Linked DNA regions of Homo sapiens. The protein of the gene in region 1 interacts with the protein of each later gene in a pairwise test. Each region holds a gene or a part of one and is shown on either strand. Other genes may lie near its edges.

Evidence for each region.
Region 2: the proteins of ACBD6 (region 1) and NMT1 interact in binary tests that used the Homo sapiens proteins (3 or more experiments, as listed by UniProt).

Annotation. Positions count from the first base shown.
Region 1 is NC_000001.11:180,495,991-180,511,826, forward strand, and holds the start of ACBD6 (acyl-CoA-binding domain-containing protein 6), read right to left. Parts: upstream 6,588-15,836; 5' UTR 6,277-6,587; coding exon 6,055-6,276; intron 1-6,054. UniProt on the Homo sapiens protein: Binds long-chain acyl-coenzyme A molecules with a strong preference for unsaturated C18:1-CoA, lower affinity for unsaturated C20:4-CoA, and very weak affinity for saturated C16:0-CoA. Does not bind fatty acids. Plays a role in protein N-myristoylation.
Region 2 is NC_000017.11:45,051,974-45,067,944, reverse strand, and holds the start of NMT1 (glycylpeptide N-tetradecanoyltransferase 1), read right to left. Parts: upstream 6,629-15,971; 5' UTR 6,616-6,628; coding exon 6,485-6,615; intron 1-6,484.

The DNA.
Region 1 (15,836 bases):
AAAACAGTGTACTACTTTTAAAGTACCCTATTATGAAATTCATCAATATAAATTTGGATGCCAAAAGCCATGCAAAAAATTTCATGGGTTCTCAAAAATACAATTCCGTTTTTCTACAATAGTCTTATCATCTTTTGTTTGAGGTCAATACTTAATTTTAATCCTCAACCGACATTTGTAGTTAAACTGCACAGTGAAATTTTCATTAAGAATAAGCATAAATGAAATTCACACAAGTGCAGAATTCACTATACAGGCCCTGATTCCCACTGCCAGAAGTCATCTTCCTTCCTTATGAACTCTTAGAGCATTTACTCTATATATCTTTTATGGTACTTTTCACTTTTTCTACCATGTGTTTAGAAAGTTTTGTGTAAAGTCTCATCTTTCTATTAGAATAGAGCCTGTAACTGTTCTTAACTCATCCACAGAACCTATCTACTTCTCAGGGATTTTCCCACTGTTTCCCATTACTCTAACTGATGCCTTCATCTAACCAGAATGATCTACTGACTGCCTTAGGTATTCCTAGTTCAGGGTTTTGCTTGTTACTCCACTCACCTGAAATGCCTTTTCTTCTTTCCTCAGCTTTTCAAGATGCTGCACGACCTTCCAGTTCTACTCAAATTTCAGATTCTAAGAACCCTTTCAGTCTACAATGATCTCATCTACCTCTGAATTCATAACAATTACCACCTCTATCATTTGCTTAGCGATTAATTGCATGGCCCTATGCTGTTATTAAAATGTATACTTACATAGAAGCAGCCCTGTTATGATGGAATAGAGAGAAGAAAGGGTGAAAAAGAAGGAGCCACATTTCTTGAACAATCACGATAGACCAAACACTTCACATATTTTATCTCAAATGGGCCAAAAAAAAAATCCTGCTAGGTATGCCATCACAAACTCATTTTATAAATGAAGAGAGAAGCTCAGGAGGGTTGTCTCAGTTCACACATTAGTATATCCTGAATTAGTAGTCCGGATTTAAATCAAAGAGTGTTTGACTCCAAAGCTCAATATCCCTTTACTACATCATTCTGTCTTAAATGCTAAATAGAGTCTGGGCTTCAATTCTGGACTCTCTAAAATCACATGAACTACCAGACTGTTAGAAATAATAAATGAGATAAATTATACAAACTTTAAGACATAAAAATAGCAATTATAACTATTTTTGTTTTTTATCCAGACACTATCCAGTGGCAGAAACAAATGCCAATAGTTCTCCATTTCTCCTATAGTAACAGAAGTCTCAGCTGGACACATGATCATCCGGCTAAACATTATACATGGCCATCCAACTTCTGCCTAGGTTCTGGGGACTGGATGTGTGGAAAAGTGATACAAATACCTTCCTTAAAAAGAAAAGGAGCTTGTCTTCCCCTTTCCCTTTGCTCTGGATAGGATATACATGTGGTGATGGTAAGCCACCTCTGACCATGAAAAAGGAACTTAGGGCAGCAGTTTTCAATTTTTTTAGTCTTGTAATCCCTTTATACTCTCAGAAATTAAGGATCTTAAAGAGCCATCATTTATATGGGTTATATCTATCGATATTTACCACATTAGAAATTAAAACTGGGACATTTAAAAAATGTGTATTAATTCATTTAAAAATAATAAACCCATTAGATGTTAACATAAATAACATTTCATGCAAAATAACTACATATTCTAAAAAAAATTAGTGAGAAAAGTAGCACTGTTTTACATTTTTTAATTTTTTTAATGTCTCGCTTAGTAGAAGCCAGTTGCATTTGCATATCTAATGCTGCATCCAGTCTACTGCAATATGTTGTTTTGGTTGAAGTATATGAAGAAAATTCGGCTTCACGCAGATATGTTGTTAGAAAGAGAGAGAAGTATTTTAGCAGCATTTTCAGATAATTGTAGATATTCTTCTTTGATACTATGCCAAAACCTAACAGATGGTAGTTTAAGGTCAGTTGCAACGAGGAATCTGAACTCATATCAATGAATTTTTCATACTGTTAACACTGAAATCCATTGGTCTGACTTGCACTTTGAAAGGCATCTTTTACCAACACATAATTTGTAACATCATTCCATGAAATATTTAGAAAATATGGTTTACTGAGTTACACAGACTTTTCAAATGTTGACACATTTCATGATATAACAGCAAACGTTCACATTCATGACTGTCACCACTTATCTCATCAAAAAAAGTTTTTAAGTACTGGGAAGCTGTCAAGCTCATGGTGGCAGATATAGATTTTCCAAATTTCTCATTTTCACTTGAAGGTTCAAATGTTATTACTGGCAACAAACACTTTGAGTTGTTTTCCTTGAAGTGACAGGCTTATTTCGTTCATTTTTAAGAAACTACCTGCCAAATACCCAAATTTGAGTAGGTATAATTATCTGTGAGTTGTTCTGTTAAGTAAAATTGGAAAAGAATATAGTTCATTTTGCGACTCAGAAATTACACAAGTGCTTTTCCTCAAAATAGTTAACATAATTCAGTATGCAGCAGAAGTACTTTGTGTGTACTTCCCATCTCATCACACAAAATGTAAGACTTGACTCAAGGGTTAATATTTAATAAAGTAGTATTAAGGCACGGTGGCTCATGCCTGTAATCCCAGCACTTTGGGAGGCCAAGGCAGGTGGATCACCTGAGATCAGGAGACCAGCCTGGTCAACCATGGCCAACATGGTGAAACCCCATCTCTACTAAAAATACAAAAATCAATCAGGTGCGGTGGCAGACACCTGTAATCACAGCTACTCGGGAAGCTGAGGCAAGAGAATAGCTTGAACCTAGGAGGCGGAGGTTGTAGTGAGCCCAGATTACGCCACTGCATTCCAGCCTGGATGACAGAGCAAAACTGTCTCAAAAAAAAAAAAAAAAGTATTATTAAACAGTATCTTATGAAGTCAACAGGAATTCACAAATTTTCATTACTCTCCAGTTTTCACAGCTGTCAATTAGCTATCTTTAGGAGGGAGAGTGTAGGCTGATGTAAAGAAGGACCAAAAAATTGTTCATTCGATTTTGTTAAAACTTTATTAAAAGATTATTCTGAAGCCATAGGCTTATCTGAGACTAATAAAGCTATGATGCTAAGTTTAGAGTTCTCCCTGAGAAAATAAGGTTCATATTTCAGCTTATTTTTATTATCTTCCTGCCAACAACCTCATCCAGCCTACAAAATAGGGTGCTATTCTGAATACAAAACGTTATTTTATAAATTTTGATCCAATATGCAGAAATGATATTGGACTTCCAACTTTATTATTCTATCAAAGATGCTATTCTTAACACTATCTCACAATTTTGTCAAAAATATTTAGGAGATTGATGAAAACTGCGGCCCAGTGTCATATATAAGTAAGCATATTATTCTCTAACAATGCAGAATTTTATTTTCAGATACAGAATATCTCTAAACACCATAAAGTCAAGTTCTTGAAAGGATGAGGGACATCCCTCCTTCATATTATCTGGATGAAGTGAGTATACCTGAGACAAAATGGTTCCCAAGTCGATAGGTGACTACAGTTCACTGATGACTTAGAAATATAGTATTTTAATAATGACACCAATATCAATAAACAAAGATATGTCCTAGAACGAAAAATAATATTTTCTAGGGAATTTGGGGAAAATTAGTCTCATACTGCCCAGAGAATCATCAGACATATTACAGGTCCTAAAATATGATTCTCAGTAAATATTTGTTAAATAATCAAAAGTTTCACTCTAATGTTATTAGGACAAAGTATAACAAATGACCAAAGAGAAAACAGATATCTACAACTTTTCCAAGAAAGCTAATTCCAAGGCCAATTTGGAGGTAATTTTCATTCGACACTATAATTTATACCATTTGTTCCTACAGCTTTCTCTCTCAGGTCACATTAACTGATATTCATAATAATGACCATCAACCTTCAAAACAAGGTTCATTTTTACTCAGTACATCCAGTTTAAGAACACAGTGGGGCTGGGCATGCGGGATCATGTCTGTAATAACAGTACTTCAGGAGGCGTAAGCAGGAGGATCGCTTGAAGCCAGAAGCTTCAAGGCTGCAGTGAGCTATGAGTGTGTAACTGCCCTCCAGCCTGAGCAACGAAACAAGATCCTGTCTCTAAAAAAACTTTTTTAGTTAAAAAAAAAAAAAAAAGAACACAGCAGGACCTCTCCCCCAACTTATTTTTCCTTTAACAAATACAGGGGAAAATACGTAACTATGTCAAGAGGCAAAAAGAAAAAAAGTTTACACATTTTTAATAAAACAAAATAGGCTATTATCCAGAATTTCCTTTCCTCTAGTGTTTCAAAGAGCTGTAATTTTCCTGAACTGTTATTTAACTCTTGTCAGCAATTTTTCAGGTATGTTCAAACCTAGACTCCTCAAGTACTTTAAGTCTCTTAAAGCAAATGTTGGCGGGGCGTGGTGGCTCACACCTGTAATCCCAGCACTTTGGGAGGCCAAGGCAGGCAGATCACCTAAGGTCAGGAGTTCAAGACCAGCCTGGCGAACATGATGAAACCCCGTCTCTTCTAAAAATACAAGAAATTAGTTGGGCATGGCGGCAGGCACCTGTAATCCCAGCTACTCGGGAGGCTGGGACAGGACAATCGCTTGAACCGGGGAGGTAGAGGTTGCAGTGAGCTAAGATCCAGCCACTGCACTCCAGCCTGGGCAACAGGAGCAAAACTCCATCTCAAAAAAAAAAAAAAAAAAGTGTCAGCCAGGTGCAGTGGCTCATGCCTGTAATCCCAGCACTTTGGGCAGGTGGATCGTCTGAGCTCAGGAGTTCAAGACCAGCCTGGGAAATGTGGTGAAACCCAGACCCTCTGTAAAAAAAAAAAAAAAAAAAAAAAGTGAGTGTCATGATGTTTTTGCTTCTCTGCAAAGTGTCATGATGTTTTTGCTTCTCTGCATTCTCTGTAGGCATTATACCCAAGTGTCTTGCACATAAAAGCTGCTGAACAAATATATGTTGCTTATGATAAAGCAATTATTTTCCTTCTGGTACCAACCAATGTCACCCTGAATTATAAATTAAACGTGTCTATACACCTCCCTATTTCCAGGTAAAGTTCACAGCCTTAGACTGAGTCAGGAGCTACAATCCAGTTCTGACTGATGTATTTGTATGACCCTAGGAAAGGTGCCTACTCTCTATGGCCTTCAGTTTCCTTTACTGTAAAAGAAGGGCATTATTTCCTCTGGTGTTCATAGCTCTAAAATTTTTAGATTGTATCAAACAGAAAGGAAGACATACTCAACGAAAACATAAATCAAAGATATTTAGGATTTTATAAAAATCACAATAAAAGTTGTAATACTGCATTTTGCATTGCATCACATTATTATTATTATTATTATTTGAGGTGGAGTTTCTTCGCTCTTGTTGCCCAGGCTGGAGTGCAATGGCGCACAATCTTCGCTCACCGCAACCTCCGCCTCCTCAGCCTCCCGAGTAGCTGGGATTACAGGCATGCGCCACCACGCTCGGCTAACTTAGTAGAGACGGGGTTTCTCCATGTTGGTCAGGCTGGTCTCCAACTCCCGACCTCAGGTGATCCTCCCGCCTCGGCCTCCCAAAGTGCTGGGATTACAGCCGTGAGCAACCACGCCCAGCCCTGCATCACATTATTACAATCCTATTATCTTTTTGGATCTCTATATAGTTTTATTAACTTTACCGTATTTACTTCCATGTGGCCCTCTGGGAAAGAGTAAATGAATGATATATCTTATTTTATCCTCATTTTGTAAAGGTTCTTGGGCTGGTAAAATGCAAGATCACTGAATAAGTCAGAGAAAAAAACACAAAAACAATGTCCAGTGTCCAGCTAAATAAACATCACTCCTAAGAAAGCAAACATCTTTTCCACGTTCAGGATGATGCTCATCCCCAGCAGATGGTCAAAAAAAAAAAAACAAAACAAAATACACATACACAAGCTTCATTACACCTAGCTATTAACCATACATGCTTGCTATCAGTTGTTGAGGAAGAAGGCTCCGTGTCTTTCTCCCCCATCCACCCTCTCCCTGCTACTTTACCTGTTTGTACCTGGCATACAGGTACAAGAGCTGCTCCCTGCTGGCCACCTGAATCAGGCCTTGCAGGTGCGCGGCAGCCTTCTCAAACAGCTCGGCCAGGCAACTGGTCTCCTCGATCTCAGGGCTATGGGGGAACTCCACCTCCCCGGAGTCGTCCCCTGAGCTCAGCTCTCCACCGCTGTCGCCGGTGATGGCCCCCGCGGGCAGGAATGATGAAGCCATGTCTCCTTGCTCGCTCCGTCCCTCTGTGTCCGGTCTGTCCTCCTTGGATTGGGTGTAAGGCCGGCTTGGAGGCCTGGCCCACCAGTCTGGGTCGCGAGCCTGAGCTCCAGTCGGACCCAAGCTCAGTCGCGGCGCGCTCCCTCACGTGACCCTGCTCCCTGCCCACTTCTACTCCCTGGGCGTGCAGAGCAGGCTCCTCGACCCTCTGCCGCTCTGCCCAGTCGACCCGGTCTCCTCCGGCTTCCCTCCGGCCAACAGCGCGCTCAGGCTCGCCTCAGGCCCCTCCAACGGAACAGGAGTCGAGGGGCAGTGAGGCCGGGATGCGTGCGAGCGCGGGGCGCGGCTGGCGCTGGGCCGTGGGGGCGGGGCGGCGTGCGTGCCAGCGGCGTGCGATTCTGTGAGGCCTGCTCTGCGCCGGCGGGGAAGCGCGGGCGACGCTACGCTGGACGTCCTTCCCTGCCGGAGGAGAGAAAGTGCCGTCAGCTGTAGGGGCGTCTTTTAATCGTTTCGCTGAAATTAGCAGTCCCGAGCTCCGGAGCCCGCCACCGGGATGGGCCCCCGGGGGTGGGGGAAGGAGGCCGTTTGTGTGGTAGTGTAGCGGTGAGAGCGGAGTCGCGGGAAACGCGAGGCTGAGGACTAAGGTTCCGCCTGCCCCAGATTGTGCGCCCCAAGCGCCTCCAAACAGCCCTGCGCGCGGATCTGTTGCGTGCGCGTTGGGCTCTGTGTTGAATAATGAAAAACTGCGAGATGGGGCTGTCCCGTCTTACTGTGTGACTGATGAGTGGAATCACTGCTCTGCGTGTTTCGCTCTCCACACCTTCGGAGCCCGCACCTCTCCGGGCCCTGAATAATAGGGTTTGGGGAGTTCGGGGCGCGCCTTAGCCCAGTTCTCATCCCGAGCTCTGTCTTTGACACTGTGCTTTGTAGACACTGTACAGTGAAACCAGAAGTACGGCACAGTTCGGCCCTAGAGGAATGCACAAAACTATTTTTTTAACTGTAACATTATGAGTGGTTATGTCCTAAATGTTAAACACAACGACGCACTATATATTCATTTAGTATTCAAAACAATGTAATAAGCACTATAAGAAGGGTACAAAGAAAGTGTTGTAAACAGTGGTTATTGACTGGGGTTAGGCTTGCGACGGGTGGACGGACGGCTGGACAGGATGAGGAAGCAATGAGAGAACACAGGAAGGTGAGAAAGCTTGCATCAGGATTCAACAGACATTCCTTAAGTCTCCAGAAAGTTCCACTGTTAGTCCCTGCTGTCAAGGTGCTCGCAATCCAGTCAAAGGGATGTTTAATGACCAAATTCTTGCAATTAAAAAGTGATTAAGAATAATGTATTGAGGACTTGATCATTACAACATAAGGTAGGTACTCTTATTTTACTACACATAGGAAATCAGCACAGAGTGGTTAAGTAACTTGTCAAAGGCTACACAGCTAGCAAATGGAGGAGCAAGGAAAAAGAAGTTAGCTTTCATGTGGGGTAATAATGGATGATGAACCCGACAAGTAGACTGAAGGAGATATAACATGGACTTTTATATCTTTGTTTCTAGAATTTTTATTAAAGTGAGAATTGAATATTATCAACGGCTTTTTTGGCATCTTTGGAGATTATCTGCTTTTCTCCTCTAGTCTTCGAAAGGAATTATATTAACAGTTTCTATTTTAATGAATTATATTAACAAAAATAAATTTGGGATTTAATGAATTATATAATAGCTAACATTGATAAATTAGTATGCATTATTTCAAAACCTCCTAGTTTTGAGCATTACTTCTGTTCTTGGAATAAACCCATTCTGGTCCTGGTTTGGTTTTTTTAAAAAATTTGTAGGTTCAGTTTGCTAATATTTTCATTATCTTTACAGTTCCATTTAAAGATGTCATTAACCTATAGTTTTCCTTTTCTATACTTTCTCAATTTTGTATCAAGGTAATAGAATCCTTGTAGAATGCATTTAGAAGTTTTCATCTTTTTCTGTATTCTGGAAGAGTTTACATAACATGGGAAAGAGAGCAACCAGAATTCTTTTACACTGCTGGTGTGAGCATAAATTGGTACAATCACTGTGGAAAAATGTTTGGCACTATCTACTAAAGCTGAACATAAATATACAACAATTCGACTCCTCCCCAGCGGGAATATATACATGGCATTCACCAAAAACATGTACGAGAACATTCATAGCAGCACTATGAACTAATTCCTAATTGCTCCAAACTGGAAGCTCCTGAATGTCCATCAACACTAGAATGGAGATAAACTGGTGTGCTTACATGATGGAATACTATTCATCAGTGAGAATGAACTAATTACAATGACACAGAATAACATGAATGAATCTCAAACATAATGTTGAGTATAAGCCTATACTCAAAAAAGTGCATATTACATGTTTCTAGTCATAAAAAATTCAAAATCAGGCAAAACTAATCTGTGGTGTTAGACTCAGGATAGTGGGTAACCTCAGGGTTAGTGATCTGAAGGGTGCATGAAGGGGACTTCTGGAAGTTGGATATGTTGTTTCTTAAGCCGAACATTAGTACACTGATGTGTTCACTTTATGAAAATTCATTTATAATTTATGTACTTTTCTGTATGTATATTTGAATGAAAAATGTATTATAAAACTAAAATGTAAGAAAGAAAAAGGAAAGAGTCCTTAACATTGAGAAGCTGGCCTGACACTCACAGCTAGGCCTTGTTATTCTCCTATTGAAGAGAAATAATCTCACAAAATAGCAACTGCAGACAAGGTCACTCTGAAATCATGATACAATGATACAAAGCAAACCACTTCATTAAGCTTTTCTAAGCACAGACAAAAAGCTCACTTTACTGACTACAAAATACAACACCTTTTTCTTGGCCCAAACAAATAACTACTACTACTTTAAAATTGCAGCTTTATTCTCATGCTAGCCACTTCTCTATAGATAAGACTGAGATGCCCAAGATCTCAATCTTGTTACAGTAGGTAGCTAGTCAGGAATGAGCAGGGCAGGAGAGGGCTCCGCACCACACGCACATATCAGGAATGTCGGGCAACCATCAGGTGATGGTCAAGCGGTTGTTAACTGTCTCACTAAAATAATAATTGATCACAGCTGGCACCAGGGAACAGCAGGCTCCTGATAGAAAACACCTGAAACTAGTGATCAGCAGCTTCCCGATAAGATCTCAGGAGTGGGGCGAGTGGGCTCAAGCATGTGCATGCGGACAGCCCACCCCAAGGGAAGAATCGGGGAGAAGTAATGCAAGACCGCAGAAGTAAGCCAATATATAAAACCCCAAGGCCAGGCACACAGTGGCTCATGCCTGTAATCCCAGCACTTTGCAGGGCCAAGACGGGCGGATCATCTGAGGTCAGGAGTTTGAGACCAGCCTGGCCAACATGGTGAAACCCTGTCTCTACTAAAAATACAAAACAAAACAAAACAAAACAAAAAAAACAAAAAAAACAGAATTAACTACTCAGGAGGCTGAGGCACAAGAATTGCTTGAACCTGGGAGGTGGAGGGTGCAAGCCAAGATCGCGCTACTACACTCCAGCCTAGGCAACAGAGCAAGAATCTGTCTCAAGACAAACAAAAACAAACCCTGAGTCAAAATATCAAGCTGTGTACTTGCCTTTCAAGTTGCCTGTTTGGCTTTCTTCCAAGCATACTTTCCTTCTTTTTATTCCTGCTCTAAAGCTTTTTAATAAACTTTTACTGCTGCTCTAAAACTTGCCTGGGTCTCTCCTTCTGCCTATGTCCATCAGTTGAATACTTTATTCGGAGGAGGCCAGAATTGAGGGTGCTGCAGACCCCAAGGGATTCACCACTGGTATTACTATTTTGAAGTCGTGTGACTCAGATACGTTTCCCTGCTGACACAATCATAGACTTCCCCCAGCTTTCTGACTGCATCCAATTGAGAGCATATTCCCGCTTCCTTAGATGCTCTCCCAAATCACCACAAAGCCCAAATCGTATAATAGGTTCTTTCTTAACACCCTTTTACCGAGGCAGCCCATTCTTCCTCAAGGTGTGTGTTCTTCCTCACTGCAACCAGAAATAATTCCAACTTGGTTAACTACAGATGTGTTCCTGGAGGTCTCTGCCTGAAGGACATTGACACTTGAGAAGCTTTTATTTCTTGAAGAGTCTATCGAAATCCCAAAACTCTCAGGATCTGGTGACACTGAGGAGACAGATATTTTACCATTAGTGTTTCCCTTCACCCATTTTTTGGGAAAGATAGTACAGTTGACCCTGGAACAACACAAGTTTGAACTCTGTGCATACATTTATACACGGGTTTTTTTCTACATATATTGGAAAAAGTTTTGGATATTTGCAACAATTTAAAAAACACAGATAAACTGTATAGCCTAGAAATATTGAAAAATTAAGAAAAGTATGTCATAATGCATAAAATATGTAGATACTCATCTTTTATCATTTAATACCCTAAAATATACACAAATATAACTTTTTTTTTGAGACAGAGCCTCACTCTTGTTGCCCAGGCTGGAGTGCAATGAAGCGATCTTGGCTCACTGCAACCTCTGCCTCCCAGGTTCAAGTGATTCTCCTGCCTCAGCCTCCCGAGTAGCTGGGATTACAGGTGCCCGCCACCATGCACAGCTAATTTTTGTATTTTTAGTAGAGATGGGGTTTCACCATGTTGGTCAGGCTGGTCTTGAACTCCTGACCTCAGGTGATCCACCTGCCTCGTGCTGGATTATAGGTGTGAGCCACTGCTCCCGGCCCACAAATGTATTATAAAAAGTTAAAATTTATCAAAACATACACACATAAACACAGACCGTGGCACCATTAACAGTTGAGAGAAATTGAAACAAACATAACGATGCAGCATTAAATCATAACTGCATATAACTCATACATACTGTAGTGCTGTACTAATTTCATGGCACCTCTCATTGCTATTGCAGTGAGCCCAAGTGTTTTGAATGTATCCACTTAAAACACTTCGTGATGTTAATCATCTCCACAAGAGCAGTTGTCTCTCCAGTAAATTGTGTATCATAGTAAAAAGTGATCACTCATGGTTCCTGTATTTTTCATCGTGTTTAGTGCACTGCCGTCAACCTTGAATAACACCGTGGTACCTATACAAAGTGCCACTAGCGATGCTGTAAATGCTCCCAAGAAGCAGAGAATAGTCATTACAAGGAAAAGTTTAATTGCTTAATAAGTACTGTAGATTGAGGTCTGCAGCTGTGGTTGCTGCCATTTCAGGCAGGGATTCATCTTGTAAGCAAAAGAAATAAACTTACAGTATTGGTAAATAAGTACAATAATAATAATTACTATAAATGTATTTTCCTTATGGTTTTCTTAATGACATTTTCTTTTCTCTAGCTTACTTTATTTCAAGAAGACAGTACATAATACATATACAAAATATGTGTTACTCAACTGTTTGTGTTCTTGGCATGGCTTGCAGTCAACAGTAGTTGACTGCTTAGGGGTCGATCCCCTTATTGCTGAGTTGTTCAAAGCTTAACTGTTTATGTTTCTTTGAATCCCAAGAAAAATCAGCCAAGAAATCAGGAAGTCAAAAGAAAGTATTACAGTTCTGCAGGAATTGAAGTTTAGCAGTCAACATACACTGATTCAAACAAACCCGCTAACAAGTGAAAAGCAATGGCAGGAAACACTGACAAATGGAGTCTAAAGTGAGCAGAAAAAGGAGCAGGCAGGAAAGAAGTAGTGAAGATCTAATCAGTCTGGCTCATGATGGTGGCCATGTTGCATATGGTGTTCACAGCCCCATCTTCTGGTAACAATGAGTCATTCTTGCAAGTAAAATAAATATTGATGACATGATATGCATAATAAATAAAATTCTATGAGTCATGTTCTAAGAAATTAGAAGCAAAATAAGTCCTCAAACTGGCAATTTGTTTAAGTGATGCTGAGTAGTTCTATTAACCTTGCTAGAAGGTCTGAATGTTATGTTATTAGAATACTACCCAACAATGTTGTGGCATTTTCCAGTGTTTATATTCATTATAAACTACAGTTCTAAGTATTTCAAGAAGAAATGCAAAGAGAAAAATATGTGATTGTTGTAAAATGCTTCCCAACATAACATCTGAACTGATCTAAACATCTGAATTAACAAAAGTCATAATGAGAGGTGACGACCTACTGGCAGCCCTCACAGAGGGCTGGCTGTCAGCACCTCCTCGGCCTCGGCAGTGCTTGAGGAGCCCTTCAGCCTGCCGCTGCACTGTGGGAGCCCCTCTCTGGGCTGGCCAAGGCTAGAGCCGGCTCCCTCTGCTTGCAGGGAGGTGTGGAGGGAGAGGAGCAGGCTGGAACCGGGGCTGCGCGTGGCGGTCGCAGGCCAGCGTGAGTTCCAGGAGGGCATGGGATCTGTGGGCCCTGCACTTGGAGCGGCAGACCGGAAACACTGGCCCCGGGCAGTGAGCGGCTTAGCACCTGGGCCAGCAGCTGCAGAGGGTGGGCCGGGTCCCCCAGCAGTACCGGCCCACCGGCACTGCACTCGGATCCTCACAGGGCCGCAGCTGCTTCCCTGCAGGACAGGGCTCAGGACCTGCAGCCCACCATGCCCGAGCCTTCCCCCACCCCGCCATGGGCTCCTGCGCAGCCCTAGCCTCCCCAACGAGTGCCGCCCCCTGCTCCGCAGCACCCGGTCCCATCTACCGCCCAAGGGCTGAGGAGCCCGCAGGCACGCAGCGCTGGACTGGTTGAACAGCTCCGCCCGCTGCCCTGGCACGGGATCCACCAGGCGAAGCTGGCTGACCTCCTGAGTTGGTGGGGGGAGGTGGGACTTGGAGAACTTTTATGTCTAGCTGGAGGATTGTAAATGCACCAATCAGCACCCTGTGTCTAGCTCAAGGTTTGTGAATGCACCAATCAGCAGTCTGTATCTAGCTCAGGCTTTGTAAATGCATCAATCAGTGCTCTGTGTCTGGCTAATCTAGTGGGGGACTTGGAGAACTTTTGTGTCTAGCTCAGGGATTGTAAATGCACCAATCTGCACCCTGTCAAAACGGACCAATCAGCTCTCTGTAAAATGGACCAATCTCAGCAGGATGTGGGTGGGGCCAGATAAGAGAATAAAAGCAGGCTGCCAAGAGCCAGCTGCGGCAAGTCGCTCAGGTCTCCAGCTTAGTTGTTTTGCTCTCTGCAGTAACTCTTGCTGGTGCTAACTGTTTGGGTCCGCACTGTCTTTGTGAGCTGTGACACTCATGGCGAAGGTCTGCAGCTTCACTCTTGAGGCCAGCAAGACCACGAACCCACTGGGAGGAATGAACAACTCCAGACGCACCGCCTTGAGAGCTGTAACACTCACCGCCAAGGTCTGCAGCTTCACTCCTGAAGCCAGGGAGATCACGAACCCACCAGAAGGAAGAAACTCCAAACACGTCCGAACATCAGAAGGAACAAACTCCCGACACACCATCTTTAAGAACTGTAACACTCACCGTGAGGGTCCACGTTTTCATTCTTGAAGTCAGTGAGTTCAAGAACCCACCAATTGCAGACACAATAACTGTTTCAGTAGCATAACTGAAGTCAGGGCAACCAGACAAAATATTTTCCTCGTTACAAAAGTAACTGCACTGGGTTTAGTACAATTTAGGTTTTTGTGAAATATTGACATTTAAAAAATTTTTGTATCAATACCTTTTGAGGTATAAATTTTTTTTGTTATATGGATGAATAATGTAGTGGTGACTTCTGAGACTTTAGTGCACCTGTCACCCAAGTAGTGTACATTGTACTTAATATGTGGTTATTTATCTCTAACCCCATTCCCACCCTCCCCCTGCTGAGTCTCTAAACTCCATTATACCACTCTGTATGTCTTCATGTACTCAAAGCTTAGCTCCCGCTTACAAGCGAGAACATACAGGTTTTGGTTTCCCACTCCTGAGTTACTTCATTTAGAATAATGGCTTCCAGCTCCATACAAGTTGCTGCCAAAGACATTGTTTTATTCCTTTTCATGGCTGAGTGGTATTCCGTGGTGTCTATATACCACATTTTCTTTAGTCATTGGTTGATGGGCACTTAGGTTGGTTCCACATCTTTTGCATTTGTGCTACTATAAATGTGTGTGCAAGTGTTTTTTTTATATAAATGACTTCTTTTCCTTTGGGTACATACAGTCAGTAGTGGGCTTGCTGGATCAAATGGTCGACCTACTTTTAGTTCTTTAAGGAATCTCCATACCATTTTCTATAGAGGTTGTATTAATTTGCATTCCCACCAGCAGTGAATAAGCATTCCCTTTTCCCCACATCCATGCCAGCATCTATTGTGTTTTGACTTTTTAATAATGGCCGTTCTTACAGGAGTAAGGCAGTAACTCATTGTGGTTTTAATTTGCATTTCCCTGATGATTAGTAATGTTGAGCATTTTTCATATGTTTGTTGGCCATTTGTATATCTTCTTTTGGAAATGTCCGTGCATGTCCTTTGCCCACTTTTGGATGGGATTTTTTTTTTTCTTGCTGATTTGTTTGGGTTCCATGTAGATTCTTGACACTAGTCCTATGTGGGATGCATAGTTTACAAATATTTTCTCCCACTCTGGGTTGTCTGTTTACTCTGATTATTATTTCTTTTGCTATGAAGAAGCTTTTTAGTTTAATTAGGTCCCATTTATTTATTTTTGTTTTTGTTGCATTTGCTTTTGGGGTCTTAGTCATGAATACTTTGCCAAGGCTGATGACTAGAAGAGTTTTTACAATGTTGTCTTCTAGAATTTTTATGGTTTCAGGTCTTATATTTAAGTATTTGATTCATCTTGAGTTGATATTTGTATAAGATGAGATAGGGATCCAATTTCATTCTTCTACATGTGGCTTGCCAGTTTCCCCAGCATCGTTTATTAAATAGGATGTCCATTTCCCGATTGATGTTTTTGTATGCTTTGTCAAAGATCAGTTGGCTGCATGTATTTGGGTTTATTTCTGGGTTCTCTGTTCTGTTTTATTGGTCTGTGTGCCTACTTTTATACCAGTACCATGCTGTTTTGGTAACTGCAGTTTTATAGCATAATTTGAAGCTCGATAATGTGATGCCTCCAGATTTGTTTTTTTTGATTAGGATTGCTTTGGCTATTGGGGCTCTTTTTTTCGTTCCATATGAATTTTAGAATTGTTTTTTCTAATTCTGTGAAAAATGATGTTAATGTTTGGCAACTTTTTTTACATTAGCACCAAAATACTGATTGATCCATTAAAAATACATTAATTCCTGATATGATTCAGACACAGTGCTAACTCCTAAGAATACTACAATGAACAAAATTTTCTTTCCCTCACTCTACTCCAGCCACATGAACCTCCCTGTAGCTCTTCTACAAGTCAAGCATGATCCAACATATTACCATTTTAGTATCCTTGGACTTGTTATTCCCTCGTTCTGGAACACTTTGCCCCAAAATATCCACAATTTGCCCTCATCTCTTTCAGGTCTTTGCTCAAATGTCACATTAATAAAAGCTTCCTTGACAACCATATTAAAAACTTGCGACCCGACTCCCAGCAACA
Region 2 (15,971 bases), on another chromosome or scaffold:
GGGAATTTTAGCGTGAGCATATTAGTTGAACAATGTGAAAAATCAGCAAAACTGCTGTGCCATGAGCAGCGAGTCCCTGAAATAGGCTCTCATTTACTTTCCATTTCTTCTGCTTTCCAGTCTCTTCTCTTTGAAGCAGCTCTTGATTAGTTTCTTTTTAATTGCCATTTAATTGGGAAACAAAATTAGAACACTTATTTGATATCAGTGATGAGGTTTCTCTTTCCATTCTGCTTTGATCTAGTTTTGAAAAACCAAAAGTTGAAGGGAGAAATTAAAAAGGAACTAAAAAGATTTCTTATTTCCAAGAGCTAGCTGCAGCTATAAGCCATCAAATAAATAGGGAAAGAACGACTCTTGGAGAAGCTGAAGAAAAAAACAAAAACAAGTAAGGCTAGCTTTATGGAATTTATTTTCAGAAAGACTTTTCTCTCCTCCTAAGTTTTCATAAGGGATAGTATCTCACAACCAGGAAATGAGGAGAACTTATAAAGAATCCATGTTAACCTGTCCCAGGGAGTAAGAGAGCAGGATGGAGATGAGACACCTCTTGTCAGAGGGCTCTTGACCCGTGCTTACCAGGATCTCAATGACACTGAAGACACTGCAAAATAAATTCCGAAAGATTCCTAGAACACAATAGTCTAAAAGTTCTTTTTTGTTCCAAAACACTCAGACAATCTTCACTTATTACCCCCAAATTAAAATCTGCCAACTGATGAGATTTATTCTTTGGCAATACTTCTTGGAAAGACTCTCATTAAAAAAAAAAAAAAATCAAATTAAACCATATAGATGAATCACGAACTACAGGGGGATGCTGCATAAAGGTTATCTTATCTGACTCTCCTCTCAATTGTTCAGGATAATTACGCTAGGCACGTAACTGGGGGAAATTGAGTGCAGTAAAAAAACAAACAAAACCAGCTGGATGCAGGAGCTTATGCCCACAATCCCAGCAGTTTGGGAGGCCAAGGTGGCAGCATCACTTGAGGCCAGCAGTTTGAGACCAGCCTGGGCTAAATAGTGAGACCCCATCTCTACAGAAACTTTTTAAAAAGAAAATTAGCCAGGGATGATGGTGCATGTCTACAATCCTAGCTACTTGGGAGGCTGAGGTGGGAGGATCGCTTGAGCCCAGGTCAAAGGCTGCAGTAAGCCATGATCACACCACTGTACTATAGCCTGGACGACAGAGCGAGGCCCTGTTTCCAAAGTAATAACAATAATTTTAAAATTAAATTAAAAAATTTTTAAATAGAAAAACTGAAGAGACGCACCCATACACACTGCATATGTATGCATGTATACCTATATGTATACATGAAGGGTTTGGGTTTTTTTGTTTTTATTTATAGAGATGGGGTCTCACCATGTTGCCCAGGCTGGTCTCGAACTCCTGAGCTCAAGTGATTTTTCTGCCTCAGCCTCCCAAAGTGCTGAGATTACAGGCATGAGCCACTACACACAACCACATGAAGTTTTATATTCACCAAATGTTTATGCTGATTTAATTACGGAGGAAACACAAGACCAGAAAAGTCAAGAACTAAATTCATATACAAAGAGACATAAGTAACTAATACAACTGGCCGGGCGTGGTGGCTCACACCTGTAATCCTAGCACTTTCGGAGGCCAAGGCAGGTGGATTGCCTGAGCTCAGGAGTTCAAGACCAGCCTGGGCAACAACGGTGAAACCCCGTCTCTACTAAAATATGAAAAATTAGCCGGGTGTGGCAGTGTGCTCCTGTAGTCCCAGCTACTCAGGAGGCTGAGGCAGGAGAATTTCTTGAACCCGGGAGGCAGAGGTTGCAGTGAGCCAAGATCGCGCCACAGCACTCCAGCCCGGGCAACAGAATCCAGTACATGAATTTAGCTCATTTTATTAGCATAGAGTACTATGACTTTAGTTCCTGAAAAAAAGGGGCAGGAGGCTGGGTGTGGTGGCTCATGCTTACAATCCCAGCACTTTGGGAGGCTAAGGCAGGAGGATCACTTGAACCCAGGAGTTTGAGACTAGTCTGAGCAACATAGCGAGACACAGTCTCTTTAAAAAAAAAAAAAGGCCCAGGAGAATAAGGGTTAGCTCGAACTATCATTAACCTTTATTATATATTACACATTTTAGACTCTCTAGCATTGAAAGGAAAACTTCTCTGTCAATTTTTACATGATTTTTGAGAACATTTTAAATAATATTAAGACAAAAAACATTTCAAGAAGCAAAACACAGTGGAAAGCACACAACAGTGGAAAGCTCCACAGCAAATTGGAGCTTCCTGGTTTCTGTAGGTATTTCTTTTTTTTTTTTTTTTTTTTTGAGACAGAGTCTGGCTCTGTCGCCCAGGCTGGAGTGCAATGGCGCAATCTCGGCTCACTGCAAGCTCCGCCTCACAGGGTCACACCATTCTCCTGCCTCAGCCTCCCGAGTAGCTGGGACTACAGGCATGCGCCACCACACCTGGCTAATTTTTTGTATTTTTATTAGAGATGGGGTTTCACTGTGTTAGCCAGGATGGTCTCGATCTCCTGACCTCATGATCCCGCCCGCCTTAGCCTCCCAAAGTGCTGGGATTACAGGTGTGAGCCACCATGCCCTGCCTCTGTAGGTATTTCATAAAAACTGTAGTGAGGCTTACAATGAGAATTATTTGGGGAGAGAAAATGTGTATGTAAGAAAAATCTGACATCCTCTCACTTGGTGAGGGGAGATGAAACTCCACTAATACTGGGCTAGGCACTTTAATATCTGCCATTCATTCATACAGCAAATACTCATTAATGCCCACTAAGTGCTAGGCATTTCGAAGACACAATCCTGTTTACATGCTCCTTACTGTCAGATGAGACAGGTACCAGACACATTAAGAAAAATTACCAAACATGTAGTTATATTTATTGTTATTATAACTATTGTTACGATAAAAGCTACAATACAGTATGTGATAAGAGCAGAGGGGCAAGCTGGGAGGTTAGGGACGATCTGAAGAAAGAGGAGGAGGGAGGAAAAGGAGTGCATTCCAGATGTTATCTCATTAATCCCTACAACTCTGAGTTAAGTACCTTTCCCAAGGTCACAGGACTGTTAAGTGTCAGAGCCAAGCTTTGAGATGAGATTTTGAGATCAGAGGCTTGCTCTGTCGCCCAGGCTGGAGTGCACTGGAGAGATCTCAGCTCAGTGCAACCTCTGCCTCCTGTTTTCAAGTGATTCTCCTGCCTCAGCCTCCTAAGTAGCTAGGATTACAGGCGCCTGCCATCATGCCCAGCTAATTTTTGTATTTTTAGTAGAGATGAGGTTTCACTATGCTGGCCAGGCTGGTCTCAAACTCCTGACCACAAGCGATCTGCCCACCTCAGCCTCCCAAAGTGCTGGGATTACAGATGTGCGCCACCGCGCCTGGCCTCAGACCAGATTTAAATTATTCCAAAGTCCATGCTTTTCTACTGTGCCGTGCTGCATTTTCCCACATTGCTGCTTCTCCCCAAAACCATTTCCTCTCAAAGTTCATGGAAAAATGTTGACTCTACCCCAGATTCTTAGTGCCAGAATTAGACTCTCTCCTCCAGACTAGGCCCTTGGTTTTTCACCTACTACCTCCAAACTCATTTTCACAGATCTTTAGATTTGGGACGCTAATAAACATAATTTTTTCACCCAGACCATAACCATGCACAGAGACACCACTGCAAACTGTCAAAGTTTTTAAGGTTATCACTTACTTCTACTACAAATAAAATAATTTTATTTATTTATTTTTTTGAGATGGAGTCTCGCTCCGTTGCCAAGCTGGTGTGCAGTGGCGCAATCTCAGCTCACTGCAACCTCCGCCTCCCGGGTTCGAGTGATTCTCCTGCCTCAGCCTCCCGAGTAGCTGGGACTACAGGTATGCACCACCATGCCCAGCTAATTTTTCTATTTTTAATAGAGACAGGGTTTCACCATGTTAGCCAGGATGGTCTCAATCTCTTGACCTCGTGATCCACCCGCCTCGGCCTCCCAGAGTGATGGGATTACAGGCATGAGCCACTGTGTGCCACTTTTTTTTCTGAGACAGGGCTTTGCTCTATTGCCCAGGCTGGAGTGCAGTGGTGCAATCTCAACTCACTGCAGCCTCCACCTCCCAGGTTCAAGTGATTCTCCTGCCTCAGTCTCCGGAGTAGCTGGGACTATAGGCGTACGCCACCATGCCCAGCTAAATTTTGTATTTTTAGTGGAGACGGGGTTTCACCATGTTGGCCATGCTGTTCTCGAACTGCTGACCTCAAGTGATCCACCTGCCTCGGCCTCCCAAAGTGCTGGGATTACAGGTGTGAGCTACCACGCCAGGCCAATAAAATAACTTTCTGGCACACAGTTTTGAAAAGTGATTCACAGATTATAGGGCACAAACCTAAGGACACTGGTCAGGACAACAGTTAAGAAGATAAAAATAAAAGCAACTACAAAAAGAGCAAAGAAAATGCCACACTTTCACTTCTGGAATGACTTTCACATTCACCAACTCTCATCTGTGATTCAGATCTCTACTCAGGAGAGCTTCACTTTCCCTTCTTCCTGTTCCTACTTCCTCTTTCTCAGCTCTTCCATTTTTAGGAATATCAAACTTCAAAAGAAGACTTTTATTACATTAGATCTGTTGTGAGTTACAGCAACAGAACAGTCTTATAAAAACTAAATTTGGCAAGCTTCCTATTCCTCTACTTTCTTCCTGTGATTTTTTTTTTTTTTTTTTTTTTTTGAGTCGGAGTCTCGCTCTGTCGCCCAGGCTGGAGTGCAGTGGCGTGATCTCAGCTCACTGCAAGCTCTGCCTCCTGGGTTCACGCCATTCTCCTGCCTTAGCCTCCCGAGTAGTTGGGACTACAGGCGCCCGCCACCACGCCCGGCTAAATTTTTTGTATTTTTAGTAGAGATGGGATTTCACAGTGTTAGCCAGGATGGTCTCGATCTCCTGACCTCGTGATCTGCCTCCCAAAGTACTGGGATTACAGGCATGAGCCACCATGCCCGGCCCTTCCTGTGATTTTTAATGCCGGCTGAAGAACATAAAAGCTAGATCTTTTAACCTAAGATTTACCACAAGCAGATTATAAACCACTTAAATACAGTCATGCTTCACTGAACGTCAGGCATATGTGCTGGGAAATGCATGGTTAGGTGATTTTTGCCTTGCCAACATTATAGGGTGTACTTACACAAATCTAGATGGTATAGCCTACTAAATGCCTAGGCTATATGGTGTACATTACAGTAACATGCTATACAGGTTTGTAGCCTAGGAGCAATAGGCTGCTGCATGTTACTGAGTACTGCAGGCAACTATAATACAATGGTAAGTATTTGTGTATCTAAGCATACCTAAACATAGAAAGGATACAATAAAAATATGTACTATAATCTTGTGGGACCATCTCTTCTACGCAGTCCTTGGTCTTTATACCTTTATATCTGCACTGCCACCAATACTGCGAATAACAAGCTGGCTACGAAAATCAGACTACCTCAGACTCAGCAAGTTATACACCCAAAAATCTCTCACGACTTTCAGTTTAAAAATATATCTACAAATATAGACAGGAAGATGGGGAGAGACAGCGTGAGTGCCAGTGCCAGGCACTAACCATGTGAAGAAAGATGAATAAGCTGTGGCTTACAGAAGTAAAAACTAATTTGGGAAAAGAATTCAACATTCAAATGCCTGGTGTGTTTCTTCATCCCTAGGAACAAATAGTAACTAATGGCAAGACCCTAAAGTACAGGATAGGCAGTATGGAGCCCGAGGATTCCAAATACTCTCCAAGAAACAACATCGCTCATTTCTTGAAGCCTGGGGCTGCTCTGCAAAGGTAACAAGGCAAAGATGTTCGAAGACTTAATTATATTAATATATCGTTCAGGATACTTATGGATTATTTGGAGCAATGGAAACTATGTAAATCAAAGCATTACCATACCGTTAATTACATAGGTTTATAAGGTGAGTTTATATTTTGGGATTCTCTGGTAGTGATATTTTACAATATAATTATACATACAGTTTGTATAGTCTGATGAGTTTCCTCACTGAGGGTGAACTGCTGCGAAATGTTTTATGATTCGTTTATTGCTAGTCACGTTGTTCAAACAACACGTCTATAAGTAACGTTCCCTTTGAACTGTACTGTTACTAGACTGTCCTGTGTTGTACCATCGAAAACCATCGTCCAACATGCTCTTTTCCCAGGAATGGCCTGAAGCACACGAGTGGAACACTGCATAGAACTTTTATATAATAAAAGTACTGAACGTCTCCGGCCCTTAATATCCAGAGCACCCACCCTTGGTAAATGACAAAGGCAATAACCAATCGCCAGGCAGAATCCTAGTGACTTAGCCAATAAGAACATGAGGGTGGGGCTAGACTAAGCTCCCGGTGACTTCCCCGCACCCCAGAGACCCAGGTTGTGGGAGGCTGGACGGGAATTGGACTCCGAGGATTTCGTTACCCCCGGTTGTAGCTGTTGTCCTCCTCATTCTCGCAATCGCTGCAGTGCTCATGGCCGTTCCCGTTCCCTTCCATCATCTGCGGCAGCGGAGGTGCCGGCGGCTTCACTGCTGTCTCACTCTCGTCCGCCATCTTGAGTTGCGAGAGCAGGGCTCCGCGCCCCACTACATGGGGGGTTCCTATTGGACAAGGGGAATTTGCGCTGCATTCTGGGTTTTGTAGTTTTTCTGGCGAAGCGAGCTGCCACTAGGAGCGACTCTTTCCCAGGAAACTGACTACAATACCCAGGAATCACGAGGGACGGCTCCGGTCGGATTAAGAGGCGGGGCCACTGATACCCGGAAGCCTAGGCATTCGGCCACGCTTTGAGGAAAGAAGGGGCGCAAGGTTGGTGGGACCGACCCTTGGGAACCGGGCGGCCGCCTGGCATGATGGGAGTTGTAGTTCGATGCTGGTTTAGGGTTTCAGGCGTGGAGGTTCCAAAATCCGAGGTTTGATTTCAGCCTGCCCTTGCCAGTGCCTGGGCCGCTGGGAGCCGTTATTGGCTGCCGTTAAGGACCGTTACGTTTCCCGGGTAAGTGAAAGGGCCTGAGGCCCGCGGGTGCTACCTGCCTGGAGCCGGAATGCCCCAGGCCTTCTTAGAGTGGGCTTTTCCGCAAGAAGCCTAGTTGACTCCTGGCCGCCTTCCTCACTCGGGAGTCTGGGCAACCTGCGGTCATTGGCAGTTCAAGGTCTCATGAGAGGCAGTGGATTTTTTTGTGCGAAGCACTGACCCTAAGCCAGGAGACCACACTGCTAGGGAGGCAGGGCTCGCCGCCTCATCTTGGCCTCCAGGTACTTATCTTCGCCAAGCTCTTTCGCGCACACGTGGTCCCTTTAATTCCCCACAAGAATTTTCCACAACGACCCTTTTTTTCTTTTCTTTTCTTTCTTTCTTTCTTTTTTCTTTTTTAAATACGGCCGCCTTCTGTCGCCCAGGCTGGAGCGCAATGGCTCAAGATCACAGCTCACTGCAATCAAGGTATCCTCCCACCTCAGCCTCCCAAGTACCTAGGACTATAGGCATGAGCCACCACACCCGGATAATTTATATATTTTTTGTAGAGACGAGGGTCTCGCCTTGTTGCCCAGGCTGGTCTCGAACTCCTGGCCTCTAAGGATCTTCCTACCCCAACCCCGCAAAGTGCTGGGATTACAGACGTGAGCCACGGCACCCAGCCCACATCAACTCTTTCTTTAATAAGTGCCAGACTCTGTAGTAAGGCATTTCGTACATTATCTCATTTAATCCTCTCAACAAGTCTACAATATAGGTCCTATTATTATTATTCAACCTTTGTTTTGTTTTGTTTTGTTTTGAGACGGAGTCTCTCTCTGACTCCCAGGCTGGAGTGCAGTGGTGCGATCTCGGCTCACTGCAACCTTCGCCTCCTGGGTTCAAGCGATTCTCTTGCCTCGGCCTCCTGAGTAGCTGGGATTAAAGGCGCACGCCACCACACCTGGCTAATTTTTGTATTTTTAGTAGAGACGGGGTTTCACCATGTTGGTCAGGCTGGTCTCGAACTCCTGACCTCGTGATCTGCCCATTTCGGCCTCCCAAAGTGCTGGGATTAGAGGTGTGAGCCACCGTACCTGGCCATATTGACCTTTTTGACAGATGAAAAAATGTGGCCCTGAGAGGTTGGTAAATTGCACAGTCACATAGCTGGTTAAGTGGCAAATCGGTATACAAATCCAGATCTGTGTGCCCCAGGCCCTCTGAATTCTTTGCCACCATAAAAGTCCCATTTTCTGATACACTATTCACTCAAGGAAATCAGTTACTAAAAGGTAACTGTGACTCCAGTGCGTATTCTATATCAGGGGAAAAAAGGTAACTGCCACATTTTAATCTGTTTTTAACCTTGATTGAATGTTTCAGTCCCTGAGTCTCACTCTTTTGATTGAGTAATCTCGCCTAAGTGCCCAAAGACATGGTTCCCATTCTTGGAAATTTCCTATTCGGGTTGAGTGTGGTGGGTGATGAGAGGACTAATTCTTACCATCAGAGTGCTCCATGGCCAAAAAGGGAAATGATCTTTGCCTTTGGGAAAGATCTCAACATGGGAAGAATGGCAGGGCGGGAAGAAACAGTTCCCATCTGACTCAGGGAAAGAAAACACAAATAAAACACAGAACTAAATATAGTCAACTCTTTCTTTCTTTTTTTTTTCTGAGACGGAGTCTCGCTCTCTTGCTCTGTCGCCCAGGCTGGATTGCAGTGGCGCGATTTTGGCTCACTGCAAGCTCTGCCTCCCGGGTTCACGCCATTCTCCTACCTCAGCCTCCCAAGTAGCTGGGACTACAGGTGCCCGCCACCTCACCCGGCTAATTTTTTGTATTTTTAGTAGAGACGGGGTTTCACCGTGTTAGCCAGGGTGGGCTCGATCTCCTGACCTCGTGATCTGCCCGCCTCGGCCTCCCAAAGTGCTGGGATTACAGGCGTGAGCCACCGCGCCCGGCCAACTCAACTCTGTTTTTATATCAATGGCATAAGCATAAGTAATTATGATCCAAAGCAGCAGATAATCCTCAGTCATTTATATTTGACTTTGGAAGGCAGTCAAAGATGCCCACTCAGTCTGAGAGCTGTCACCACACTCAACTCTCCGGGGTCTAAGACTGCTGTTCAACGCGATTGCCCTATTTGCAGCTGCAGGGAAGGGGGGGGTCAGAGGTAAGAAGAAGAATAATAAAGCCAGGCCAGGCGCTGGGGCTTATGCCAGTAATCCCAGCACTTTGGGAAGCCGAGGTGGGTGGATCACCTGAGGTCAGGAGTTCGAGACCAGCCTGGCCAACGTGGCGAAACCCCGTCTCTACTGAAAATACAAAAAAATTAGCTGGGCTTAGTGGTGGGCGCCTATAATCCCAGCTACTTGGGAGGCTGAGACGCGAGAATCTTTTGAACCTGGGAGGCGGAGGTTGCAGTAAGCCAAGATTCTGCCACTGCACTCCAGCCTGGGTGACAAAGTGGGACTCTGTCTCAAAAAAAATAAAAAGTAGGCTGGGCGTGGTGGCTCATGCCTGTAATCCCAGCACTTTGGGATTACAATAATAAAATAAAAGATAAAAAGATATTTTGTGTGTTATTTTTATTTATTATTATTTTTGAGACTGTCTCGCTCTGTCGCCTACGCTGGAGTGCAATGGCGCAATCTCGGCTTGCTGCAACCTCTGCCTCCTGGATTCAAGTGATCCTGCCACCTCAGCCTCCCCGGTAGCTGGGACTACAGGTGCGCACCCCCATGCCTGGCTAATTTTTGTACTTACAGTAGAGATGGGGTTTCACCACGTTGGCCAGGCTGGTCTTAAACTCCTGACCTCAGGTAATCCACCTGCCTTGGCCTCCCAAAGTGCTGGAATTACAGGTGTGAGCCACCACGCCCAGGCTTTTTTTTTTTTTTTTTTTTTTTTGAGACGGAATCTCACTGTCACCCAAGTTGGAGTGCAGTGGCACAATCTCGACTCATTGCAACCTCTGCCTTCCAGGTTTAAGCGATTCTCCTGCCTCAGCCTCCCAAGTAGCTGGGATTACAGGTGCCTGCCACCACGCCCAGCTAATTTTTGTACTTTTAGTAGAGACAGGGTTTCACCACGTTGGCCAGGCTGGTCTCGAACTCCTGACCTCAGGTGATCCGCCCACCTCGCTCTCCCAAAGTGCTGAGATTACAGGTGTGAGACACTGCACCTGGCCTGAATTACTGTTTTTTTTTTTTTTTTGAGATGGAGTCGCACTCTGTTGCCCAGGCTGGAGTGCAGTGGCACTATCTCGGCTCACTGCAACCTCTGCCTCCTGGATTCCAGCAGTTCTCCTGCCTCAACCTCCCGAGTAGCTGGGATTACAGGCACACACCGCCATGCCCAGCTAATTTTTTGTATTTTAGTAGAGACGGGGTTTCACCATGTTGCCCAGGCTGGTCTCCAACTCCTGAGCTCAGGCAATCCGCCTGCCTCGGCCTCCCAAAGTGCTGGGATTACAGGCATGAGCCACTGCGCCCAGCCGAGAGCTTTCCACTTTGAAACAATTTTGGTTTGTGAAAAGCTGGCCCGGTTCTGCCTTATGGAGTTATGCAGAAATATAGCTGGGTGAGGTGGCTCATGCCTGTAATCCCAACACTTTGGGAGGCTGAGATGGGTGGATCACTTGAGCCCAGGAGTGTGAGACCTGCCTGGGCAACATAGAGGACCCTGTCTCTAAAAAAAATACAAAAATTAGCGTGGCATTGTGGCATGCACCTATGGTTCTAGCTACTTGGGAGGCTGAGGTGGGAGGATCGCTGGAACCCAGGATCATGCCACTGCACTCCAGCCCGGACAACATGGCAAGGCCCCGTCTCTATATAAATAGGAAAAAAGGGCCAGGCGCAGTGGCTCACGCCTGTAATCCCAGTACTTTGGGAGGCCAAGGCGGGCAGATCATGAGGTCAGGGGATCGAGACCATCCTGGCTAACATGGTGAAACCCTGTCTCTACTGAAAATACAAAAAATTAGCCAGACGTGGTGGCGGGCGTCTGTAGTCCCAGCTACTTGGTAGGCTGAGGCAGGAGAACGGTGTAAACCAGGGAGGCGGAGCTTGCAGTGAGCGGAGATCACGCCACCGCACTCCAGCCTGGGTGACAGAGCGAGGCTCTGTCTCAAAGGAAAAAGGGCCAGGCACGGTGGCTCATGCCTATAATCCCAGCACTTTGGGAGGCCAAGGCAGGCGGATCACCTGAGGTCAGGAGTTTGAGACCAGCCTGGCCAACGTGGTGAAACCCCGTCTCTACTAAAAATACAAAATTTAGCTGGGCACAGTGGTGGACGCCTGTAATCCCAGCTACTCGGGAGGCTGAGGCAGGGAGAATTGCTTGAACCCGGGAAGTGGAGGTTGCAGTGAGCCGAGATCGCACCATTGCACTCCAACCTGGGCGACAGAGCAAGACTCTGTCTTGGGAAAAAAAAAATATATATAAAAAAGAGTGCAGGCAGAGTGTGACTCCCTGGGTTCTAAATCCTGGCTCTGCCTCTGACTTAATGAATGACCTTAGGCAAGTCACTTAACCTCTGAGCTTTGATGTCATTATCTGTAAAATAAGACTTACATAGAGAGCCCTAAAAGTGTCTAGGACAGAATTAATACCCACTTAATTAGTATTTCCCTTCCCAGGAAGTCAGCATTACTGGTATGATAACCAAAGAAAAGTTTTCTTCATGATGTCCATCACAGATCAAGGCCTTTGCTGTACTTCCAGCATGTCAGAGATAACCTTCTTTTTTTTTTTTTTTTGAGACGGAGCTTTGCTCTTTTTGCCTAGGCTGGAGTGCAATGGTGCAATCTCTCCTCACTGCAACCTCTGCCTCCTGAGTTCAAGCGATTCTCCTGCCTCAGCCTCCTGAGTAGCTGGGATTACAGGTGCGAGCCACCATGCCTGGCTAATTTTTTGTATTTTTAGTAGAGAAGGGGTTTCACCATGTTGGCCAGGCTAGTCTCAAACTCCTGACCTCAGGTGATCCCCTGCCTTGGCCTCCCAAAGTGCTGGGAGTACAGGTGTGAGCCACTGTGCCCGGCCACATATAACCTTTCTTCTGGTGGACCTACGAAGCCATGAGATAGATTGTGATTCATTTATTCCAACCTCGGGAACACTGATGACTTGTCAGCCTCTATGGCAGGAACTGGAGAGTCAGGGGTAGAACAGTTCTAGCACAGTGCCTAAGAAAGTGGGGAGCACAGGCTGTCCAGAGGCAGGAGATCCTGGGGGGACATGGTGGCTTAGCTGAATGTTCATCAGGACAGTAAACAAACTGGGGTGGACCTTCTAGGTAGAAAGTCCAGGTGCCTGAGACTTGGGTGCTTTTGAGGTATGGCAATGAGAATGATATGACTTAGGACTGGAGCTTAGAAAGTGAGGAGTGTGTGCCTGTGGTTCCAGCTATTCAGTGGGAGGCTGAGATGGGAGGATCACTTGAGCCTGGGAGGCAGAGGTCACAGTGAGCCAAGATCGTGCCACTGCACTAACCTGGGTAACAGAGTGAGACCCTGTCTCAAAAATAAATAAATAAATAAATAAATAAATAAACGTACAGAAAATAAATTTAAAACCAGGAGCCAAAGGAGTCATCTCTAATGGACTCAGGGTTGTTCATCAAACAAAATGAGAAGCAGAACTGTATTCCAGGCATCATGCTAAATGCTAAGGACACAGAGGTGACTGAGATGCAGGCCACTCTCAGGATAAAATGAGATTGTGTAAGTAGCTACAGCCAGCTCAAAGTTTCTTATTGCCATCCTGAATCATGAAAGACATATATTTGAGCTGAAAAAGCCCTTGATGGCATCACATGGAAACTCCAAAGCCCAAGTTTCATTATGGAGGAGGTGCCTGGGTTGAAGGCCCTGTAGCAGCCCTTCACCCTTTCCTATGGGATCTTCCTGGGGCAGAGGTGCAGCTGCTTTTGGCAAATCGGACCACAAGGATACCTCCTTGGAAGACAAGGCTCTCACTTGTACATGAATAGTTATAATACTGTAAGGCAGTATCTGAGAAAAGTAGGGTCATCTGGACGGTTTCCTAACACTGTGTCCCAGGAAGATCCAGATAATTTGGGGGGACAGGCCAGGCCTGTTCCTATCCCTGTCTTGGCCAGCCATGATTACTGGTGGGAGTCTGGGTATCCCTTGGATGTGTCAGGAGTAGGGAAAAGGGTGAGAACCACAGGATTAGGTTAGCTATACATTGTTTGATCAAGGAAGGGAATTGAGCCATTAAATCTGGCTCTATAAAATAGAATTAGATTTGTTCTGTATGGCCCCACGGTTTAAAACTAGGAGAGATACTGCCTAAGAAAGAACTTTCTAACTGCCAAGACTGGACTTGAAAAAATAACAACTGTCAGCCAGGTGTGGTGGCTCACACCTGTAATCCCAGCACTTTGGGAGGCTGAGGCAGGCAGATCGCCTGAGGTTGGGAGTTCGAGACCAGCATGGCCAGCATGGTGAAACCCCATCTCTACTAAAAATGTAAAAATTAGCCTGGCATGGTGGCAGGCACCTGTAATCCCAGCTACTAGGGAAGCTGAGGCAGGAGAATCACTTGAACCCGGGAGGCGGAGGTTGCAGTGAGCTGAGATCACGCCATTGTACTCCAGCCTAGGCAACAGAGCCAGACTCTGTCTCAAAAAAAAAAATAAATAAAACTGTCTTGAGTGGCAGTGAGTTCCCCAACATGGGACATGTACATGTATACATGGCAGAGATAATGTGGAAGAGATTCAAATACTGGCAGGGTGTTTGTACCAAATGGCCCTTTTGGACACAAGATGGAATCCTTTTTATTGGGTGATGGCAGTAGGTCTCCTTGACTGTTGAAGTCAGGAAGAAAGCTTTCAGGGACTCAGGTGATCTGAGAAAGATGTTAAATTACTTAATTCCTCAATATACTGAATCCCTACTGTGCAGGGCACTGGGTATTGTAGTAGTAGATAGGCAAGATTCCTACCTTAAAGGAAGTAGAGAATAGAGATACAGTTTAAGGAAAGGGAAGGGAGACAGGGTAGGTGTTAATTAAAAACTTCCTGCTGGTGAGGCACCGTGGCTCATGCCTATAATCCCAGCACTTTGGGAGGCCGAGGTGGGTGGATCACCTGAGGTCAGGAGTTTGAGACCAGCCTGGCTAACATGCCAAACCCCATCTCTACTAGAAATACAAAAATTAGCCAGATGTGCTGGGCATGGTGGCTGACGCCTGTAATCCTAGCACTTTGGGAGGCCGAGGTGGGTGGATCACCTAGGTCAGGATTTCCAGACCAGCCCGGCCAACGTGGTGAAACCCCATCTCTACTAAAAATACAAAATTAGCCGAGTGTGGTGGTACATGCCTGTAATCCTAGCTACTTGGGAGGCTGAGGCAGGAGAATCGCTTGAACCCGGGAGGTAGAGGTTGCAGTGAGCCGAGATCATGCCACTGCACTCCAGCCTGGGCAACAAGAGCAAAACTCCATCTCAAAAGCAAAACAAATTAGCTGGATGTGGTGGCGCACACCTCTAGTCCCAGCTACTCGGGAAGCTGTGGCAGGAGAATCGCTTGAACCTGGGAGGCAGAGGCTGCAGTGAGCCAAGATCCTGCCACTGCACCCCAGCCTGGGCAATAGAGCGAAACTCTGTCTCAACAAACAAACAAACAAACCAAACAAAAAAAAAACAAAAACAACTTCCTGCTATATGTGAGGCATAACTAGATAACTAGTTTTTTTTTTTTTTTTTTTTTTTTTTTAACTGGAGACAGAGTCTTGCTGTAGTCTCCCAGGCTGGAGTGCAGTGACCGGATCTTGGGCTCACTGCAACCTCCACCTCCCGGGTTCAAGCAATCCTCCTGCCTCAGCCTCCCGTGTAGCTGGGATTACAGGCATTCACCACCACGCCCGGCTAATTTTGTATTTTTAGTAGAGACGGGATTTTGCCATGTTGGCCAGGCTGGTCTCAAACTCCTGACCTCAGGTGATCCACCCGCCTTGGCCTCCCAAAGTGCTGGGATTACAGGCGTGAGCCACAGCGCCCGGCCTAGATGCTTTATTTTTTTTGAGGCAAGGTCTCGTTTTGTTGCCCAGGCTGGAGTGCAGTGGTACCATCATGGCTCTCTGCAGCCTTGACCTCCTGGGCTCAAGCCATCCTCCTGCCTCAGCCTCCCGAGTAAATGAGACCACACTGTCACCATGCCTGGCTAGTTTGTTTTTTGTTTTTTTTTTTTGTAGAGATCGGGGGTTAGTCTCACTCTTGTTTAGGCTGGTCTCGAACTCCTGGGCTCAAGTGATCCTCCCAAAGTGCTGAGATTACAGGTGTGAGCCACCGTGCCCGGCTTTTATGTATTCTTTCAACAACGCTGCACGGCTGCGATTATCCCCACTTTGAGAGGAGACAGGATGAGAGGCTGAGTGGCTTGCTAGGCTTGTATGGACAGGATGCGGGCTCTGCAATCACATGACTTTGTATGAGAGGGCAAATGGATTAACCGCTAAACATAGTTTCCTGTTGTGTAAAATGGGGATGATGATAGTATCCACCCTGCGGACTGTGCGGGCTGAGATAATCCCACAAAGTGCTCTTAGGACCTGGCAGGTGGAAAGTGCTCATGATCACCTCTGCCAAGGCTGCACAAGTAGCGAGTGGCCGAGCTTTATATCCGAAGTTAGGACCCTGCAGTTTTGCCCCTCTCCTCTCTCTCCCTCTCCTTCCCGGCTCCGGGGAAAGGAAAATTTATGGCTCCGGGTCGGGGGTTGCGGGGGACCTCTGTGCCGTGCTCCGGGGCCGAGCTCTCCCCGCCGGCCTCTCCCGCGTCCGTCCGGCCGCCCTCCCGCCCAACCTCTCCCGCCCAACCTCTCCCGCGTCCGCCCGCCCGCCCAACCTCTCCCGCGTCCGCCCGCCCGCCCAACCTCTCCCGCGTCCGCCCGCCCGCCCAACCTCTCCCGCGTC